Linked DNA regions of Homo sapiens: all the other regions are linked to region 3. The links come from fine-mapping of genetic effects on gene expression. A gene starts in region 3. Each other region holds a variant in brackets. All regions are shown on one strand. Distances are from middle to middle. Region 1 overlaps UBASH3B (ubiquitin associated and SH3 domain containing B). Region 2 overlaps UBASH3B (ubiquitin associated and SH3 domain containing B). Region 3 holds the start of UBASH3B (ubiquitin associated and SH3 domain containing B).

The links.
Region 1: its variant is fine-mapped to the expression of UBASH3B in whole blood (TOPMed, PIP above 0.99).
Region 2: its variant is fine-mapped to the expression of UBASH3B in whole blood (INTERVAL, PIP above 0.99).

Annotation. Positions count from the first base shown.
Region 1 is chr11:122,806,932-122,814,035 of GRCh38, forward strand. It overlaps UBASH3B (ubiquitin associated and SH3 domain containing B), which reads left to right. Exons shown (of 14, transcript NM_032873.5): 13 at 1,136-1,245; 14 at 2,818-7,104. The coding sequence ends at 2,955. Among named protein-coding and RNA genes, the nearest start is that of CRTAM, 28 kb to the right of the region's middle. RefSeq lists enhancers at 5,661-6,269, 6,270-6,877. The variant A/G (reference allele first, on the strand shown) is at 3,895.
Region 2 is chr11:122,707,916-122,715,019 of GRCh38, forward strand. All of the region lies in intron 1 of UBASH3B (ubiquitin associated and SH3 domain containing B), which reads left to right. Among named protein-coding and RNA genes, the nearest start is that of UBASH3B, 56 kb to the left of the region's middle. The variant ATT/A (reference allele first, on the strand shown) is at 4,119.
Region 3 is chr11:122,653,102-122,658,101 of GRCh38, forward strand. UBASH3B (ubiquitin associated and SH3 domain containing B) reads left to right here and starts at 2,621. Exons shown (of 14, transcript NM_032873.5): 1 at 2,621-3,109. The coding sequence starts at 2,949. RefSeq lists an enhancer at 2,526-3,027 and a silencer at 3,231-3,280.

The sequences.
Region 1 (7,104 bases), 150 kb after region 3:
TCAAGTGTGTTTGCTATTGAATTTTCTAAACACTGAGCTCAAATATTTAATATGTAAGACTGTTCACTATCAATTTTTTAGTGAAAAAGGCATATTGCAAAAAAAGTATGGACATTCCCTTCATCTCTTTTTTTAAGTTAAAATACTTATATTCAAACAGTAGGCAGCCATGAGCAACAGTATTATGAATGATTCCCACCTTCCAGTTTTCATTGATTAGCCACTCACTACCATAAAGGTACACAACATGTTCTATCAACCAGGAAGTCTCAAGTGCTCATAGTTCTATAGTGGGAACACTTAAAACTATGTTAGAAGGAGTTGCACAGACAGCCCTATGGACACACAACAGTCCTGTATCTTGATTGTCATGGTGTTACAAAAAGCTACACATATGATAGAATTGCATGAACTGTATCGTCACATATGCACAAACGACTTCTTGCACACCTGCTAAAATCTGAATACGCTGTGTGTATTGTACCAGCGTCCATTTCCTGGGTTTGATACTGTACCATAGTTATGTAAGATGTTACCATTGGAGGGGGATGGGATGAAGGGTTCATGGGATCTTGTCGGTATGTATGTATATGTATGTAACCCTCCCATAAATCCATAATTATTATTATTATTTTTGAGACAGGGTCTTGCTCCTGACACTCAGGCTGGAGCGCAGTGATGCAATCATGGCTCACTATAGCCTCAATCTCCTGGGCTCAAGTGATCCTCCCACATCAGCCTCCCAAGTAGCTGGGACTGCAGGCACAGGCCACCACACCCAGCTAATTTTTTAAAAATTTTCTATAGGGACAGGGTCTCACTATGTTGCTCAGGCTGGTCTCAAACTCCTGAACTCAAGTGGTCCTCCCTCCTCGTTCTCTCAAAATTACTGGGATTACAGGGATGAGCCACCACACCCGGCCCCATAAATCTGTAACTATTTTAAGATAAATGTTTTCTTTAAAAAGATTAAGCTGCCTTATCAGTAACAAAGCACTTTCAAAATATTGCTTAGGCAAATTGTCTTCTTGAGTGTGTTTGCTCCCCTGCAGAGCATTTAGTTAGCTTCCAGTATTTGCAAAGTTTCCATGTCTTTATAGAAACAGTCTTCCCATACCTTGCCATTTTCCCCCAGGAAATAACATCCTGATTGTGGCCCACGCATCTTCCCTTGAAGCGTGTACCTGCCAACTTCAGGGCCTGTCACCTCAGAACTCCAAGGACTTCGTACAAATGGTCCGAAAGGTAATTCATTCTCGTACTTTGGGGTCCGTGATGGCTAGTAGTTTGAAGTCAGTACAGTGACTGGCTGATTACCAAGTTCTTTGAAGCATGTGTTTATGCTGAGCTGGGAATATTCATTTATTGCTTCACTCAACCAAGATGTATTGAGTGATACTCTGTGCAGGGCACTTTATTAAGCCTTGTGTTAGAAAAACAATGTATGAGAGCTAGTTCTAGCTTCTAAGAGCTAAAATGTAGGAAGCAGCTAGGAATTATAAGCAAATTGTCTGGATTTCCCTGAGGGACCTTCTCTGAATTTCCCTGAGGGAACTTGGGTTGGATCAATAGAGGTCAGTCCAAAAGACAGCATCTGAAAGCTTAACTCAAACACAGGTCCTTGAAGGTAGGCCGAGGCATGCAGCAGTTTCAAATGAGGAGGCTAAAAGGCAAAGCCAGGAACAAGACAGCAAGACAGAAAACCCATGAGGCTGACCCACACATCTGGAGTCTTCCTTTCTGTGCCTGTGGGAGAGGTTTTCTGGTCAGCTGCCTCCCACACACTTCCCTTCAGGCAAATTACATACTTCCTTTCTCTGCCGCCAGAGAACCTGGTTCAAACTCAATTGCAATCTTTTTTCACATTTTTGAAAAGTTTATTTATGCATCTGTCCTCATTTGTAAGTGCTGGAAGACAGAGAATTTTGTCTTGTTTGTAAATGCAGCTCTGGACACAGACAAAAATAAGTTTTAAAATTGCTGTGACAACTGAAGTGAGGGAGAGCACAGCTTCAGCTTTGAATGTTGCAGAGACTCGTAAGGAGAAAAAAAAAACGGGTGAAACAAATTTTTTCAAATTGAAAAATATTTTCCATTGGGTCCAAGTATAATTTCAGAAATGTTTGAGCTGACTTTTTCTTTTCTTTTTTCTTTTTTTTTTGAGACAGAGCCTTGCTCTGTCACCCAGGCTAGAGCACAGTGGCGTAATCTCGGTTCACTTTAACCTCTGCCTCCTGGATTCAAGCGATTCTCCTGATTCAGCCTCCCACGTAGCTGGGATTACAGGCACATGCCACCACGCCCAGCTAATTTTTTGTATTTTTAGTATAGATGAGGTTTGCCATGTTGGCCAGGCTGGTCTCGAACTCTTGACCTCAAGTGACCCGCCCGCCTCGGCCTCCCAAAGTACTGGGATTACAGGCGTGAGCCACTGTGCCCGGCCTTGAGCTGCCTTTTTACCTGGACTTGCAATTGGGAATTAACTCCTGGCATTGTAGCCTTATGTATTTTGGTCCTCTTTTTCTGCCACCCAATTAAGCAGCAATCTATGAACAATGACTTAATTACTTTAGGGGAGGTCACCATTTAATGGATCCTTCTGATGAATCCTCTTGCAATGTAAATACTCTTCTAAGTTACCAGTTTTACCCATTTTATTTTATTTATCGATTTTTGAAGGGAATGCATTTCTACAAAGCCACTATCCATTTCTGACTGCAATTCTCTAGGGCCACATGAATATCTTTGTATTTAGGTAAAAGTTAAAGCATTAAACCTATCTCCTAATATCCCCTTTCTTTACGACTCTTACTTCAGATCCCATATCTGGGATTTTGTTCCTGTGAAGAATTAGGAGAAACTGGAATATGGCAGCTGACAGATCCACCAATCCTTCCTCTTACCCATGGACCAACTGGGGGCTTCAACTGGAGAGAGACCTTGCTTCAAGAATAAACCACACCAGTGAACAAGAAGGAAAGGCCTTTTGGAGTGTGTCTTTCTGTGTGTTTAAAAACAGTGGGAAAATCCACACCACACTCTAAGTGGACAGCTCAGAATAATTTAGCATATTTCCTTTCACACTTAAAGTTCTTAAGATGAGACTGTGTAAATGAGAGAAAGACTTGATTCAGAGGAAAAAAATGTGTTCTCTCTGGACTCTTGCCTAGCTCACAAGGCTTTGGAGAATTGTCTTCCTAAATCGGGGCACCTGCTACAGAAGAGAATGTTTCGTTCCCTCTGGGTATGCACAGCTAAGGGGCCTCATTTCTCCCAGAGGGAGCTGCTGGCCCGCTCTAAGGGGTGCAAGAGGAAGGAGTGTGCCCAGACCAGCTGGGGGAGCATTGAAAGGACAGCTTGGGGATGGAATTTTTTTTTTTTTATCTCCATTTTCCAGTTAGGTAGAGCCAAGCTGAGGAATCCTTTTAAGATTATTAGAAAACATGCCCTGAAGAGAGTTGTTCTTAGGTTACACATGAAATCCTACCGTCACTAGCCCCCATACACCAGTGTTGCTGGCTGAAGATACCCGCTTAAGGATGCTAACATTTACCCTGGTACTGCCACATTTTCTCTAGAGCAGCTGGCCCTTCTTGCTACAGCCCTATCCCCCCTCCTTGCTTCTGTGAAATGGGGAGACAAAGCACTTTTGCTCTCCAAAGCACTTTTGGATACTCAGGAGGAAAGATAAGATACATGTTTGAAGTATTCAATCATAGGAGCAAAGAACTTGCAAAATATGAAGTGACTTGGAATTAACCATGTTGTAGCCTAACGTGCTACTGCATTTCTAAATCATCAATATTTGCTTGTCTTTGCCCCTAGACTCTAGACTATGTTAACTAGTTAAGGATGTTACATTTTGAAAGGATGTATGTTAGATATATTATTTGC[A/G]GCAAGAAGTTCATTCTGTGCAATATGGACATGTTTGCAAACCATACCAAGGGTCAGGTTGTTGTACACTTACAGTACGTGTCAACCATAATGGAACATCCACAAATGCATCAATTATACCAGGGATGTATAGTAAGTCAGGGAACTAATATAAATGATGACAGTCATGGCTGCACTGCTACTTGTGCTGTCGTTTTGTTTGTTTTTCTATGATAATTTAAAATACATAGGTAGGGCTACTGAGGAAATTTGGAGAGCCACATTCTGTGGTTTCTCATTATACTTACTTCCTGCATTTAGAGGGAGTTTATTTAAAAGAAATAAATGACAATCAAACCAAATCATCAGTTATCAATGTCTGTTTAATTGTGTGACTATCTGACTGTTGATGGCCACAGATGATGGTCTCCTATGGTATAGTTCACTCTGTAGAAGATGTATGCAAAGTGAAATGCCAGCCCTTTAAAGAGACATTAGTTAGTGTAAAATGGATCTTTACATGTTGCAGTAACATTGACTATGTTTCAAAACTCAGATGCATAAAACGTAAGGTATATAAAAATACATCTATGCTTGCGTTTGAAACTACAACTTGATAACCCCTAGAAAGAAGAGGACATGAAAGGATGCTGGCTATATATGTTAATGAGCAAAAGGATTATAGTTGTTTTGTTTTGTTTTTAGAGACAGGGTCTCACTATAATGCTTAGACTGGTCTTGAACTCCTGGGCTCAAGCGATCCTCCTGCCCCTGTCTCCCAAAGTGCTAGGATTACAGGTGTGAGCCACCACACCTGGCCCATAGTTGTATTTTTTTTAGGTCACTTAGAAAAATATGTCATGTATTTTACATTTTGAGAAACAAATCAATCATGGTTTCTTCTAGCGTTGCGCAAACACTGACCCAGCTTCTGGGTATGGAAATAACCCTGTGATGATGTGTTAATATAAAATGTTGGGAGGGAATATTCCCAATAAAGGTCTTAAGAGAAAAGTCACATTACAAGTAATGTAATGGCTCTACCATTCATTCTTCTGGTATTTGTAATGAAGTGAATCCACTGTTTAATCAGATCCATAATCTTTAACAGATTCACCACAAATTTTCATGGGCGTTGAGTGCTCAGAATAATGCTTGAACACCTCACCTTGAAACTGTAGCAGTGTGTTCTGGGCAGTATCTGTAATGTATGAAATAGAGTCTGGAATAGGTTATCCACTCCATCTTCTAGGTTATCTTAGTTGTATGACGAACTGATAAATCTGTCTGACTGGGCTACAATCCATTGTTCTTAGTCCAATATGGACACTGCCTTAGGCAATGGTCTATATAAGCAAAAGGAGATAGAGATCTGAAATAATTTTCCGAATAATTCAGGTGGAAAACAAGAAAGATTGTATTTCTCTGCTTTCATTTCAATTTCATTATTTCAAATTGCTTGTCAAAATGGCCCAAAAGATCTGAATTCACATTAAGTTCCCCTTGCACACTTACCTATTTAAAAAACTAAACTTGCACTGCAACTGAGAAATTATTTGTAAATCATGTGGCATCTATGTATAATAAAAGAAAGAGACAACTATATTACTCAATTTCATATACATCCAAAAAGTATAGGCTAATATATATAACCTGAAGTTGCAGCTGGTTCTTTTTGATCTGAAGCTGATGCTTATTAAAACAAATGATGTATGGGGAGAGGAGAAGGAAGGGCAAGGAAGGAATTGACAGATAAGAAGCAAATGGTTTCTTGTACAGAGGAATTTTGTTTTAATGTAGAAAGTTATTTGAAATAAACTAGGTGAAATGAAATTAACTAAAGGTTTTAATCTGGGATTGAAAGCCTGAAAGCATTTCCTGCTTCTACAAGTGTGCCACATCAATCCGGTAATGCCCCAGTGTTATTCACAGACAGAACTTTGTTTCCTGTGATTTTAAAATACCGCGTCTGTTCCTCCATGGACCAGAGTAATTGGCACATTTTAATGCATAAGCTGGGGGTTTCATTTTCCCAGGCTCTCTTCACCATCACTGCATTGGTAGCTAGGAGCTTATTGCTTCACCCCAGTATGGAGTTCAGATTACAGTGTTTTCCATTACATTTAGATTCATAGAATCTGAATGGCTGATTAAATGGCCATCTGATGGCTGAAAGAGGGGCGTATTTTTCACTCTGTAGTGAAAGGCTTGGAGGAGTTTCTACTTTTTATTTTAATTATACTTTAACCAAAGAATTATTTTAAAGTAACCTTATATTTAAAAGATGATTTTGCAAAAAATAAAAAATAAAAAATATGCCTTCTGGAGTGATGTCTGTTTGGTAAATCATTGTTGATAATTTCCTTGTTAGTGGTATTTGGAATGCATATAGATTGTCTTGTCATTGTGCTTAACATTACCATAAGTGTGTCTTTTCCACTCAACTAGCTGTATTCGTATTAAAATGAAGTCTCTTATTTCAATTACCTAGTGTTGTTGGGAACTAATTGAACAGCTACAGTAAAAGAAGTTCCTATCTCATTGCCTTTGTGGAAAGGCTTCCCTATGTGGTAAAAGAAAGGCATTCCTCCGTAACCTAGGCACTCTGCAAGTCCAGTGTTTAATTTCAAAGCAGTGATGAATTGCTCTTTTGAAATTACTCTAAGTAATCCATGTGTTAGAATACAGATGAACCTCCGTTTGATTTCACAGCCTTCAGCACAGGCAACTGTTACTGAGTCTGCACGAACTTAGATAATGAGGTGCAGGGTTATTTGCATTTAAATTGCAATCCAGCACACGTGTGAGAAAGAAGAGGCACTAGTCTAAAAGGCTGCATTGCGGGGAGAGATGAGACAGGCAGAGGAGGGTGGGGTAAAGAGCGATTTAACATCTATTTAGGTTAATGTTCACTTTACAAAGGTGATGGGGGATATTTTGTTAGGTGATAGCAGAAGCTTTTCATTTTTAAACATAGAATTAAAATTGGATTTGCTTCTCTTTAATACTTCAACATATTGAATTTCCCTAGGAAAGTGACTAGCTATAATGAAAATTCAAGCGAAAAGGGAAAAAGATTGTAAATGCAGATGAAATAACTTCATTTTTAAGTACAAATAATAGTAGGATTGGTGTATGTAGGTTTAAAATTATAGTGATGACTAGTCGAACTTAATATACAATCAGTTCTTGCAAATACTTTACACTTAGCTGCCATTACACAACAAATTG
Region 2 (7,104 bases), 56 kb after region 3:
AACTCCTGACCTCAGGCGATCCATCTGCCTTGGCCTCCCAAAGTGCCGGGATTACAGGCATGAACCCACTGCACCTGGCCTCTAATATATAATTTATGATGCCTGAATACTACGATAGAGTTCTTCTTTGGCTATCTCTTCTCCTGACATCATAATACTAGGAAACACACTGAGCCAGAAATCTGAAAACTGGGCTTTAGTTCCAAGCCACTTACTCTTTGGAGACTCAGTGTCCAAAGGAAAGGAATTAAGAGCAGGTTCTCACCACCATCTTCAACATGCTAGAGAAGAGAGGCTAGGAGAGGTTGCTCCTTAGAGGTGAGATGCTGACTATTCTCCAAGGAGTTTTGTTAAGTCATTTTGAACTTTGCTTGGCTTTTTTTTTTTTTTTTTGAGATGGAGTTTCACTCTTGTCACCCAGGCTGGAGTGCAGTGGCACAATCTCGGCTCACTGCAACCTCCGCCTCCCAGGTTCAAGCAATTCTCCTGCCTCAGCCTCCCGAGTAGCTGGGATTACAGGCATGTACCACCACACCCAGCTAATTTTTTTGTATTATTAGTAGAGACAGGGTTTCACCATGTTGGCCAGGCTGGTCTTGAACTCCTGACCTCAAGTGATCCGCCCACCTTGGCCTCCCAAAGTGCTGGGATTACAGGTGTGAGTCACTGTGCCCGGCCTTCTTGTTTGGCTTTTGGTAACCTATTTATTCATTCATTCTTCCAAAAAGTTTTATTGCCAAATAGACAGCACCATTCACTTGCATCCCTCAAAAAGATCCACGCAGGTTTTGGAGTCAGGCATCTCTAAGTATGATGTTGGCATGAGTCTTGGCTCTGTCTTCCAGGAGCCATGTAATATGGGGCAAGTTCCCATTTTAGGTTTCAATTTTTCTCACCAGCCGAAAGCATATAATAATCCTTCTGTCACAGTTACTGAGAAATGAGAACATGTATATAATGTATCTAGCCAGTGTTCAGTACATGGTCATTTCCCATCACCTTCCCTTAATGCAGAACCCAGCCAACTTAAACATGATAAACTCATTCATGGTCAGGTACGGTGGTGCATGCCTGTAACCCTAGCACTTTGGGAGGCTGAGGCTGGCAGATGGCTTGAGCCCAGGAGTTCGAGACCAGCCTGGGCAACATGGTGAAACACTGTCTCTACAAAAACTACAAAAATTAGCTGGGTGTGGTGGCACATGCCTGTGGTCCCAGCTCCTCAGGAGGCTGAAATGGGTGAATCACTTGAGCCTGGCAAGGCTGCAGTGAGCCATGATCACACGACTGCACTCCATCCTGGGTGACAGAGCAAGGCGAGACCCTGTCTCAAAACAAACTATGTTATTGGAGACTTAGAAGTCTTCACTTTCCCATCCCCAGCCCCACCTTCATGTCTACGTTGTAAAAGAGGCTGCAGCAAGAGGGCAATACCAATATCTATTCCAGGGGAAGAATTTGGTAATGATGGACTTTCAGGAATAAAGGTTTGGGGGAAAAGCTGAGATTTCATCACTTACAAGTGAGCCGCTGTAGAAGCCAGTCAAATGTATTGCGTGGTAAGCGAGCTTTGACTTTACTAAATCAGAAGGGGATGGGGAACATGTGTGGGTGTTGGAGTGATTAGAGATTCAGTGTGTTTGTGTCCTGCTGCTTTGATTCCCTTATTAAAGAGAATGAAAATAAACCCAGCAGCTGCTGGTTAACTCTTTCTGGGTATAGGCCTACAATCAGCAGAAATGCTCCAAGTCATCAAGCATTCCTGACATCCTGGGTGGAATTATCTAATCTAAGGCTTTTGCAAGGGAGGAATTTGAGTCCCCACCTAGCCTTTTCTCCTAGAGTTCTGGAAGAGATTATCACACGGTCTCAAAAACTAGAGCTCTAACCTGTTTTTGGTTTATGTGTTTGTTCATTTGTTAGTTCATTCATTTGCCTAGATCAAAAGAGCATTCTCGAGGCCAGGGGCTGTGGGTCGCGCCTGTAATCCCAGCACTTTGGGAGGCTGAGGCAGGCAGATCACTTGAGGCCAGGAGTTCGAGACCGCCTGGCCAACATGGTGAAAGCCCGTCTCCACTAAAATTACAAAAATTAGCCAGGCATGGTGGCGGGCACCTATAATCCTAGCTACTTGGGAGGCTGAGGCAGGAGAATTGCTTGAACCCAGGAGGCAGAGGCTGCAGTGAGCCGAGGTCATACCACTGCACTCCAGCCTGGGCGACAGAGTGAGACTGTCTCAAAAAAAAAAAAAAAAAAAGCATTCTGAATCATGGATTTAAGATAATCATAATAAACAACATGGTCTAGCTTCTAGGTTCTCAGAGCAGAAGAAAGATAAGGCCAACAGTTAGAAGACAGAGGTAAATGCAGTTTAGGAAAGGCATTTAGGAGGAGGCGAAAGAGCAAGTCCCGGAGCGGGCTGGTGGTTGGAGAGATGGTGGGGCCACCATTGTTGTGCACGCTTATTACAAGCCAGGCATTGTGCTGCCTTCTGCACACATTATCTCTGTGTCATCACAACCACCCTGCAAGGCAGGTCCAGTCTCATCCCATTTCTTGAAAAGAAGGCTCAGGGACATTAAGGACCAGACATGATCTCCCCCACCTGAAAAGTGGCAGAGCCAGAAGTCAAACGTTCATCCATCCATCTGGTCGTGGTATCCTCAATCTCTGCCTCCAGAAGCGTGTGATCTTGCTAAATCATAGCTAATGCCGATATAGCCAAAAATGGACAAATAAAGGCACCAAAGTAGAAGTGGTATAGGGGGTGGAAGCTGCCCCATAAGGGCCTGCTGGGGAGAATTGGGGAGGGGGACGGGGCATGTAGAATTGGTAGGCAATGGGAACACAGAAAGCCCATGCCGCATACCACTTCCCTAGAGCTTTTGACTCTCATTCCATAAGGAGAGGAACCCCAGGTGGGTAGGCTTTGTCCTGGGGGCAGGGTGGTGGGGGTGGAGATGGTAGAGCAGCCATGGGAACATAAAGGCATATACCCTGGATTTTCAGGGATAATCATAATTTTCAAATCATCCCTTTTCATTGACAGGCCATAGAGGAAACATTGGTCTTGACTCTTGTTTCAGAAAATAAGGTCCCAGCAAAGTCAATGGGTTAGGAAGTGTGGGAGCCCTGTTCTCTGATGACTGTTGGAAACGAGATTCATGGAAGGAAGCCTGGGCTCTCCTGACTCTGTGCTTCAGTGTCCAGGCAGAATCTCCTCAGTTAATTCTCCAGAAGAGAGCCCCCACCCTTCCTCTTTATACACTCTGGCAAGGGAGCTCCTAATCTTGCAGTCCCAGGCTCCCAAAATCTCTGTAGCAGACATTTTTGGGGGTCCCCCATCTCCTGTCCAAACCTTGGAATTCGTAATCATTTTAGTGCTTAGGGAAAGAGAGGAGAGGTAATCAGACCCTATTCCAAATGCATCTCTTTCCTTCCATTTTTCTTTCGTCACTCTCCAGCCACGTGGGTCCCATCACAAGTCATCAATAACAAGATGGTCACCCCTGAGTCCAAGGGAGGCTCACAAGACTCAGGCAGAGTGAAGCTGAGCACAGGGCAGGATGTGATAAGCAGGCCTGAACGGAGCCGAGGAAGGCCGGGCACTGGCAGCCTTTAAGTGCCTTGCAAGGACATGTGCCGGGAGTGCGTGTATGCCTCTAAGTCTCCTGAGCATGCCCCCGGGCACTTCAGCCTGGCCTTGGCCTCATTACTACCTCATGCTGTGTAACGGGCACAGGTGCATGTGGAAAAAGAATCAAGGTTTTCTGATAGAACCAATTTCCTTTACTGGAGTTTGCAAATAACCTGCTGTCCTTGGGCCTTTGCATTTCCATCTCTAAAATGGGAATACTAATCCTGCCTTCAATGTCCCACTGACTACATACACCCCTCACAAAGATACTGTGAGGAAGAGTGAGTAATAGCAAAGAATCTTAAGGCTAAAAGAACCCCAGGGTTCATTTTTTTCTATCCCTTTACTTCCAGCCAAGTTCTCTACACAATAATACCCATACCAAAGAAAGGAATGTGCCGGGCATAAAGACCATCTAGAAAGGACAGCCCGCAGCTTCCCCTTGGTTTGAAGCCAAGTTGGAAGTTGTCATGCCAGCTGC[ATT/A]TTTTTTTTTTTTTTTACTGCATTGCTGTTCATCATCAAGTAATTCAGGGCACTAGGGGGAAAAAACTTCTCTGAAAATGAGGGAGTGATTTGCAGCATCTGTTATTTCCTTTTTAATTGAATCTGTTCTTCTCAGATACCAGGAGCAAGTGCCAAAGTCAGCAGTAGAATTCAGCTGTGTACATTTTGAACGAGCTGGAAGATAAGTTTATGAGCACTATACGGATGCAGATTGTACAGAAACCAGATGGCCATATTGTCCTCAAAGTCCTCTGGAGGGCGGTAGCTGACATGAAGCTCCAGCATGAGGAGGTGGGAGGTCTGCTGACTTTCCTAAGGAGCTGCTTGGGTAGATACACACCCAGGGTGGACTTGGATGCTTCCTTGGTGGGGGACGCACGTCACACGAGAGGGGCTTTCTCAGCAGCCCAAATGGACCCAGGGGCTCTCATGCTTGCTTCCATCCTGGCCCTGAGTAATAGGCATAAACCAGGGTCCTGTTGGTGCTCGCTCTTTTTCCCTCACATTCTGCATCCTGTTGAGCACCAGGAGGGTCACCAAGGGAAGCTAGGGAATTTCTACCCCAGAAAGTACCCAACAGCCCTGACTAGCTGGGAGGCAAGAGGAGAACTCCATGGGTTTCACAGGTACCTTCCTACCTGTGGTGTTGCACAAACAAAAGCAAACGCCCTGAAGTATATAGAACTCCACTACCAAGTGCAGCTTCTTAACAGCAGTTACATTTGCAGGAGAAGAGGGGATTTTGCTCCTGGATGAATGAGGAATAGTGGTACAGGGATGTACATCTCTGAGCTGAGCCCCAGGAAGCTGACTGGACATTCATCTTTCTTCTCTGGGTGGTTTTTTTTTTTTTTTTTTTTTTTTTTTTTTGAGATGGATCTCGCTCTGTCGCCCAGGCTGGAGTGCAGTGGTGCGATCTCGGCTCACTGCAAGCTCCGCCTCCTGGGTTCACGCCATTCTCCTGCCTCAGCCTCCCGAGTAGCTGGGACTACAGGCACCCGCCACCACGCCCAGCTAATTTTTTGTATTTTTAGTAGAGACGGGGTTTCACCATGTTAGCCAGGATGGTCTTGATCTCCTGACCTTGTGATCCGCCCACTTCGGCCTCCCAAAGTACTGGGATTACAGGCGTGAGCCACTGCACCCGGCCCAGTGTTCCTCATTTTCACACAGAGGAGTTGAGGCTCACATGGGATGAAGCTCTCTTTAGGGCACACAGGAGGTGCACTGTAGATCCCAAGAATAGCCACACGACGAAGAGAGGCTTTGGTTTGGGAAGTAAAAAGCCATGTGGTCAGCTGACTCTGCGGCATCAGACGAATGCATGTGAAATCATGGATCTCACCCACCTGAGGAAGGTGGGAAGTTACATCAACTGTGATAATAGATCTGTAGATGCAAAAGGCCTTGGAAGGAATATCCTATGGAAATAGAAGATATATTACAGCTTTAGCCTCTTAGGAGTGTGTGTGATTTGTCCAAAAAGATAAGCTTTATGTTAGCAATTATAAAGAAACTATAGGCATGTTGCATTTTTCTGAGAGCCATGGCCAAATTCTTGGTAAGAGTTTTTTTGAAAATCATAGTATTTTATTTTGGGGGCCCTAAAGTTTATTTATCTCAGCCACTCCCAAATCTGGCCACATGTCAGTCATCTCCAGCCTGGGCGACAAAGCGAGACTCCATCTCAAAAAAAAAAAAAAAAATGAATGTTCAGGGTTATTCCTGAAAATTCTGATCCAGTAGGTCTTGGGGAACATGGGAATCTGTATTTTTACTGAACTCCACCAGTAACTCAGATATGCAGCTGGCTTTGTGACCTCATCCAGTGCAGCCTTCCATCAGATGTTTATATCCAGGTTAGAAACCACCTCTGGATAACTTAAGCAGGAAACGAGTTTAGGTGGCTCACAGAACTATCAGGGGCATGGATAATCAGACTCTGGAAACAGGCAGGAGTCAAGGACACTGCTGCAGACACTTGCCGTGACCCCTCCACTCTTGGTCACCTTAGGTTCCAAAGTCTTTAATGGGAGTAGTTGATTGCCTTCGTCTAAGTCATATGCTGGGCATCATCTGTCAGGAAGCTGAAAGACAGAACATCTGCCCCATCAGTTTCTTTAGTGGGGCTCCCCCTTCGCTCATATTGGGATTCCCCTAAATAAGAAGAGTGCTTAGATACTGGACAGCCAAAACAACAATTGCTGTCTACAGTGTTGCCACAGTCATCAAGACTGCGCTTGAACTCCTCCATTCTTGGGGAGCTCACTACCTTACAAGGCCATTCAATTCTCTCTAAATCGGCCTTCCTGAAATTGCTACCTATTGGCCCTTAGGGTCAAGCCTTTCTCAAAATCTCATATTTAGGGGACACTGAAGAAGAACACCTTCTGAACTTCCTCTTCTGCTTTTACTTTAAAACCTGAAGCAAGTGAGAGGCAGACCTCTTTTTCCAGGTATTTGGCCCAGAGGCAGCGGGGTAAAATGGAGAGAGTGAAGGATTGAACTCAGTCCTGGCTCTGACTCCTGGTTCTGCTGCTTCACGGTCGTGTGACTTTGGACAGATTGCTTCACAACTTGTGACCCTCAGTTTCCTCATCAGTAAAACTGAAGATACTGATGGTGAGAATTAAGCCTGAAATGTGCTTCCTCTTTCCATCTTCGCACAGAGTGAAGCAATGTCAGCTGATGATGGGAAGGCAGGGTAGGATGGTGTTGAAGAACAGAGGTGTCTGGCAAGCCTGTGTCTGAGCCCGGGATGCACTCATTATCTGCATAACCTTGTACAAAGTATTTACCTTCTCCTTCTCTCATCTGTAAAGTGAGTGCAATTTTAGTACCCATGTCATAGAGTTGTTCTGAAGACTAAATGAAATAAATTTTTTGTTGTTGTTCTTGTTGTTTTTTGAGATGGAGTCTCGCTCTGTCGCCCGGGCTGGAGTGCAGTGGCGTGATCTCGGCTC
Region 3 (5,000 bases):
GACCTTGTGATTCGCCCACCTCAGCCTCCCAAAGTGCTGGGATTACAGGGGTGAGCCACCGCACCCAGCCCCCCTCTTCTCTCTTTGTAATAGAACAGTGTAGACATTTATGAAGCTTTTCCTAGCTTTTCAACGTCAACACAATTAAAGCACAATGCATCTGAATTGCCAGCCCCCCAACCCAGTGCAGAACAAATGGCAGGAGTCCTAAATAAAACAGGGGTTTGCACTGAGCTGAAGACAAGTGAGGAAGCCAAGCTGGGATTTCTGTAAAAGTGTCCCAGACAAAAACAGTTTGCATCTCAGGTGCCTAGTTTTTCATAGTGCTTTTTCCAGTCTACCTAAAACTATTTTTATATGCATCATTTCCTTTATCTTACAGTTTGCCTAAAGGCAGGGAGAAAGACAATTAATTCAATTTTTCTGGAGAAACAGAGATCCAGCAATTCTATGTCAAGGGGCATAGATGGAGTCAAAAAACTATCTTAAAGGCTGGTGTCCTTTTATCATCATAACAATGGTCGTTAACTAGTTGTTTGGCCAAATGTTAAGAGTTCAAATCTTGGCTCTGCCATTTACTAGCCATGTGACCTTGGACAAGATACTTGACCTCTGGCTCAGCACCTTCATTTGTAAAGTAGTTCCTAGTTCATAGTCTTGTCAAGGAATTGTTTGAGTCACATATGTAAGAAGCAAAGAACAACACCAGCATATAGTAAGTACTCAATAAATTTGAGTTATCATTTATGTAGCGCTTTATGGTTTACAAAGCGCTTTCACATACATTATTATCTCTTGACTAAGATCCAGATCATTTGACTTTCAGCCCAGGCATTTGGAAACAATTCAGAATACTGGATAAAATCCAGCATGTTTTACCGAACACATCCAAGGAGGCTAATACTAGGTATGGTGTTGCCAGCCCAGTCTTGTCTTTTTGCTCCATGTCCTGGAAGAGCATTCTGCAAGGTCTCCAGGATATCCCCTTTGCTCTGGAAGCAGCTACTACCCAGGAAGCATTAATTTTCCCTCATCCTTTGTACAGCAGGAGGCAGAATTAATACACATTGTTGCTTAAGCTCCAGCTGTCTTATCTCCCTGCTTCCAAACACCACTGGCTATTCTTTAGGAAACCAATTCCGGGCTCAGGGAGTTACACTGTATCATTTCCCCTGGTAAAACCTTCACAGGCCTTATAAAGCAACCTCAAAAAGCCACTCCATGGGTGCTGGTCACCATCCCTCCCCCATATTCCAACCAGGGACAGGCCCGGACTGACATTTCTGGAAAACCCAGTGTGTGCAAGGTTAGGTTACCACGGTCCATACCAATGAGGAAATTAGGCTGTAGAGAGAAGTAACTTGTCTAAGGCACCGCAGTGGATACGAGTGCTGTAGCTACGCACTTACCAGCTCTATGATCTTCCCCAACCTCTCTGAGCTGAGTTTTCTCATCTGTAAAACTGGGATAATGATTAAACACACTCCTAGGGTCAGTATAAAACTTCAGTGAGTTCATTCATTACGATTAGCACAATGACTGGCACATACAAGAGCCCAATAAATGTTAGGTTTTATTATTATTATTACCCAAAAAAGACTATCAGTTAGGGTGTACTCATTGCCTCTTTCATTATAGCAAGTGGGACCCTTGTCCCTGACTGAAGACAATGACTTTGTTTCCAAACGAAAGAGGGTTAGCATCCCCCAGCCAAATTCACCAGGTGGGGCATGGGGCATCAATATGGTTGTGGCTTCCACCATCTTTGCAGTGGGAGTAGTTTTGTCCAGCCTATGATACAATTCACTTATTATTGTGCAGTGGTGATTCGGTCCGTCTTTGAATCCTTTTATTGACAGGATATCCACTCCCTAATGAAATAAGCCCGTTCCCTTTTGAACACCTCTTATAATTAGGAAGTATGTTTTCTCTGTTCCTTCTTCCTCTACCCTCCTAGCCCTTCCTTCTTCTCCTCCTCCTTCCTCCTTTCTTTTTCCCTTCCCTCTTCTTTCTGCCCTGTCCCTCTTTTCTTGTCCCCTCCCAGGTCCTGCCACCTCTGAGAACCTGAGGTCCTTCTCCCCAACCCCTCTGCCCCACCGGGAAGGCACTATTCAGTCACTGACCATAACCTTGTAGAGCGCAGTAGGTCTTTAGTGCAGCCACTTGGCCGGCTGATTGGGAACTCAACTTCCGATGGTCCTAACAACCCTTTGGGTTTTGCAGGATCTTTGAGAAGCAAAACCTTTTACCTAGGCCTTACGGCTTGGCCTTCTGGTCCATTAGTATCATCCACCAGTTCACCCAATTTCCATTAATAACCGCATCTAGAATCACATGAAACTTGAGATGGGTTGATCTCCTGTCTTGAGGCCCAGCTGGGCGGGTATGCCAGCCAAGGAGAGGGCTGGGGCGCCGGGGGTGACTCTCGGGAGGTGAAGCACACAAGCAGCCCATAAGGTTGGGATCCTCCGTCTCCAAGTAGCGCGACTACAGCTCTTGCCCGCACGGAGCAGCCTCGGACAGCGCGGCCGCTTTAAGAGAGGGGCGGGGCCCGGGTACAGGCAAGTCAGGGCCAGCCCACAAGGCTCCTTTTCCTTTTTGATCCATTCAAAAATTACTCATTGCAAATTCCCGGACTGCTAGGCGAGGAGAGGGAAGGGGGCGGAGGAGACAGGGCTACTGCAGGCGCAGAGCTGGGGGCAGCCGGGGGCCCGAGTGGCTGAGGCTGGTCCCGCAGCGGCCGCTTGCCGGCGTTCTGGCTCCTGTGGCCTCACCAGGAAGCGTCAGAGTCCCGACACTGGGGAAGCTCGGAGCGCCGCCTCCGCTGCCGCCGCCTCCTGCCTGGCTCTGGGTCCCCGAGCCCCCTCCCCTGGCCCAGCCCGACTCCCTCCTCCTTCCCGAACCATCCGGCTCGGGCTCCTTCCCTGGCGATGGCTGGCCGCTGAGCCATGGCTCAGTACGGCCACCCCAGTCCGCTCGGCATGGCTGCGAGAGAGGAGCTGTACAGCAAAGTCACCCCCCGGAGGAACCGCCAACAGCGCCCCGGCACCATCAAGCATGGATCGGCGCTGGACGTGCTCCTCTCCATGGGGTTCCCCAGAGCCCGCGCGTAAGTGGCCGGGCTCGCAGCCCTCGGCGACCCCTCCCGCGCGCGCGGCCGGCCCTCGGCTTCGCTCCGGCTCGCCTCCCAGCGCCTGCGGGACAGGCAGCGCGCTCCCCGCTGCCCGAGACCTGTTGGGGGCGGGATGGGCGCGCTGGCAACCCGGGACTCGGCTCCGGGCGGGGGTGCGGGGGAAGACGCGGCGCGGGGGCGTTGGGCCAGGGCTCGCCGTGGGATGCCTAAAGCTGGGGGACGAGGGCGCGGGGTTCGAGTCCCGGGTATAGTGCTCAGCCTCCGCCCCAGCCGGGTGGAGCTCAGCGTTTCTCTCGCGCGCTCCCCTAGGTCTCCAGCGCCGAGCGCCTAGGGAGGCGGGGCCCTGCGGAGGACTCGGGCACCCTCTCCGTCTGGAATACTGGGCTGGTCTGGGATCCTCCGGTGTCTGGGAAAGGGCGGGAGACTGCGGGGCAGGGAGGCCGGCGCCCCCGTTGCAGCGGCTTCCAGCTCCGGATGTCGCTCTCGGGTTCGGTCTCCCCCTGGAGTAGGAGGAGCGGGAGCGTGGGTGTTCCTGCGTGTTCATTGATGGGGAGGATGGAATCAGAAGGAGAAGCGATCCCTCCAGGGGACCTGGGTTCTCGTCAGTGGTGACGGCAGCTCAGAAATCTGTGGGTGCCTGAGAGTAAGGAGGGGGAGCTGTTCTTCATCCTTCCTCTAGGAGAGTGGGGTAGGGGAGGGCAGGGAGAGCGCAGGTGGCTGCCCCTGGAGCCTGCTGGGGAGAGGCCTGTTTGCCAGCATAGGGTGGCGGCGGCCGGAGTCGTCTCAGGCCGGTCGGCTCAAGTCTCAGGGGCTGGAACTCTGCCTAAGAGGAAGCCAAGGCCCAGCGGCCAGGCCCTTCTCCCCTGGTTAATCCCTGCCGTGCAGATTTCTTAGGTGGGGACACAAGGCCTGGCGTCCGGACTGGGCGCAGCTTCTTTTCATCTTTGAATTACAGCACCTGAACAGGAGAGTTGGCCAAACTTAATCAGTGAGGGCCAAGTAAATGAAAGTCCTTTTTATTTTTTTCCCTTCTCACATTTTTTTTTCAGGTGATAACTTTATTTATGTATTTATTTTTCTGAGACGGAGTCTCGCTGTGTCGCCAGGCTAGAGTGCAGTGGCGCAATCTCTGTAACTTCCGCCTCCCAGGTTCAAGCGATTCTCCCACCTTAGCCTCCTGAGTAGCTGGGACCATAGACATGCGCCACCACACCGGGCTAATTTTTATATTTTTAGAAGAGATGGGGTTCTGCCATGTTGGCCAGGCTGGTCTCGAACTCCTGACCTCAGGTGATCCACCCACCTCGGTCTCCCAAAGTGCTGGGATTACAGGCAATAACTTTATGTCTCCCCTCCCTTATCTCTGGGCAAACCTTGTTTATTCTCTACTAACTTGGTTGTAATCTGTTAATCAAAGTAGACCCTTGAATTTGTTATTCTCCAGGCTGCTGGGACACGTTGGAGTGGCCTTAGAAGGCTGCAAAATGGACTGATGGTTTCTGCCTTCCACTGACGTCCCAATACGACTTCCTAATACTAGGGCTCCAGTTCCTGATACCAGAATTACAGGGAGAAAATGTGGGTTCTGCAGGGGTGTGTCAGGTGTGGACGCTTCAGGTGAAGTCGTCGGTGTGGATGATCAATGTGCACAGCTCTCCTTAAAAACTGGAGGTGGGGCTGGGTGTAACCCCAGCAGTTTGGGAGGCTGAGGCAGCCGGATCACTTGAGATCAGAAGTTTGAGACCAGCCTGGCCAACATGGTGAAACCCTGTCTTTACTAAAAATACAAAAATTAGCTGGGTGGGGTGGTGCATGCCTGTAATCCCAGCTACTTGGGAGGCTGAGATAAGAGAATCGCTTGAGCCCA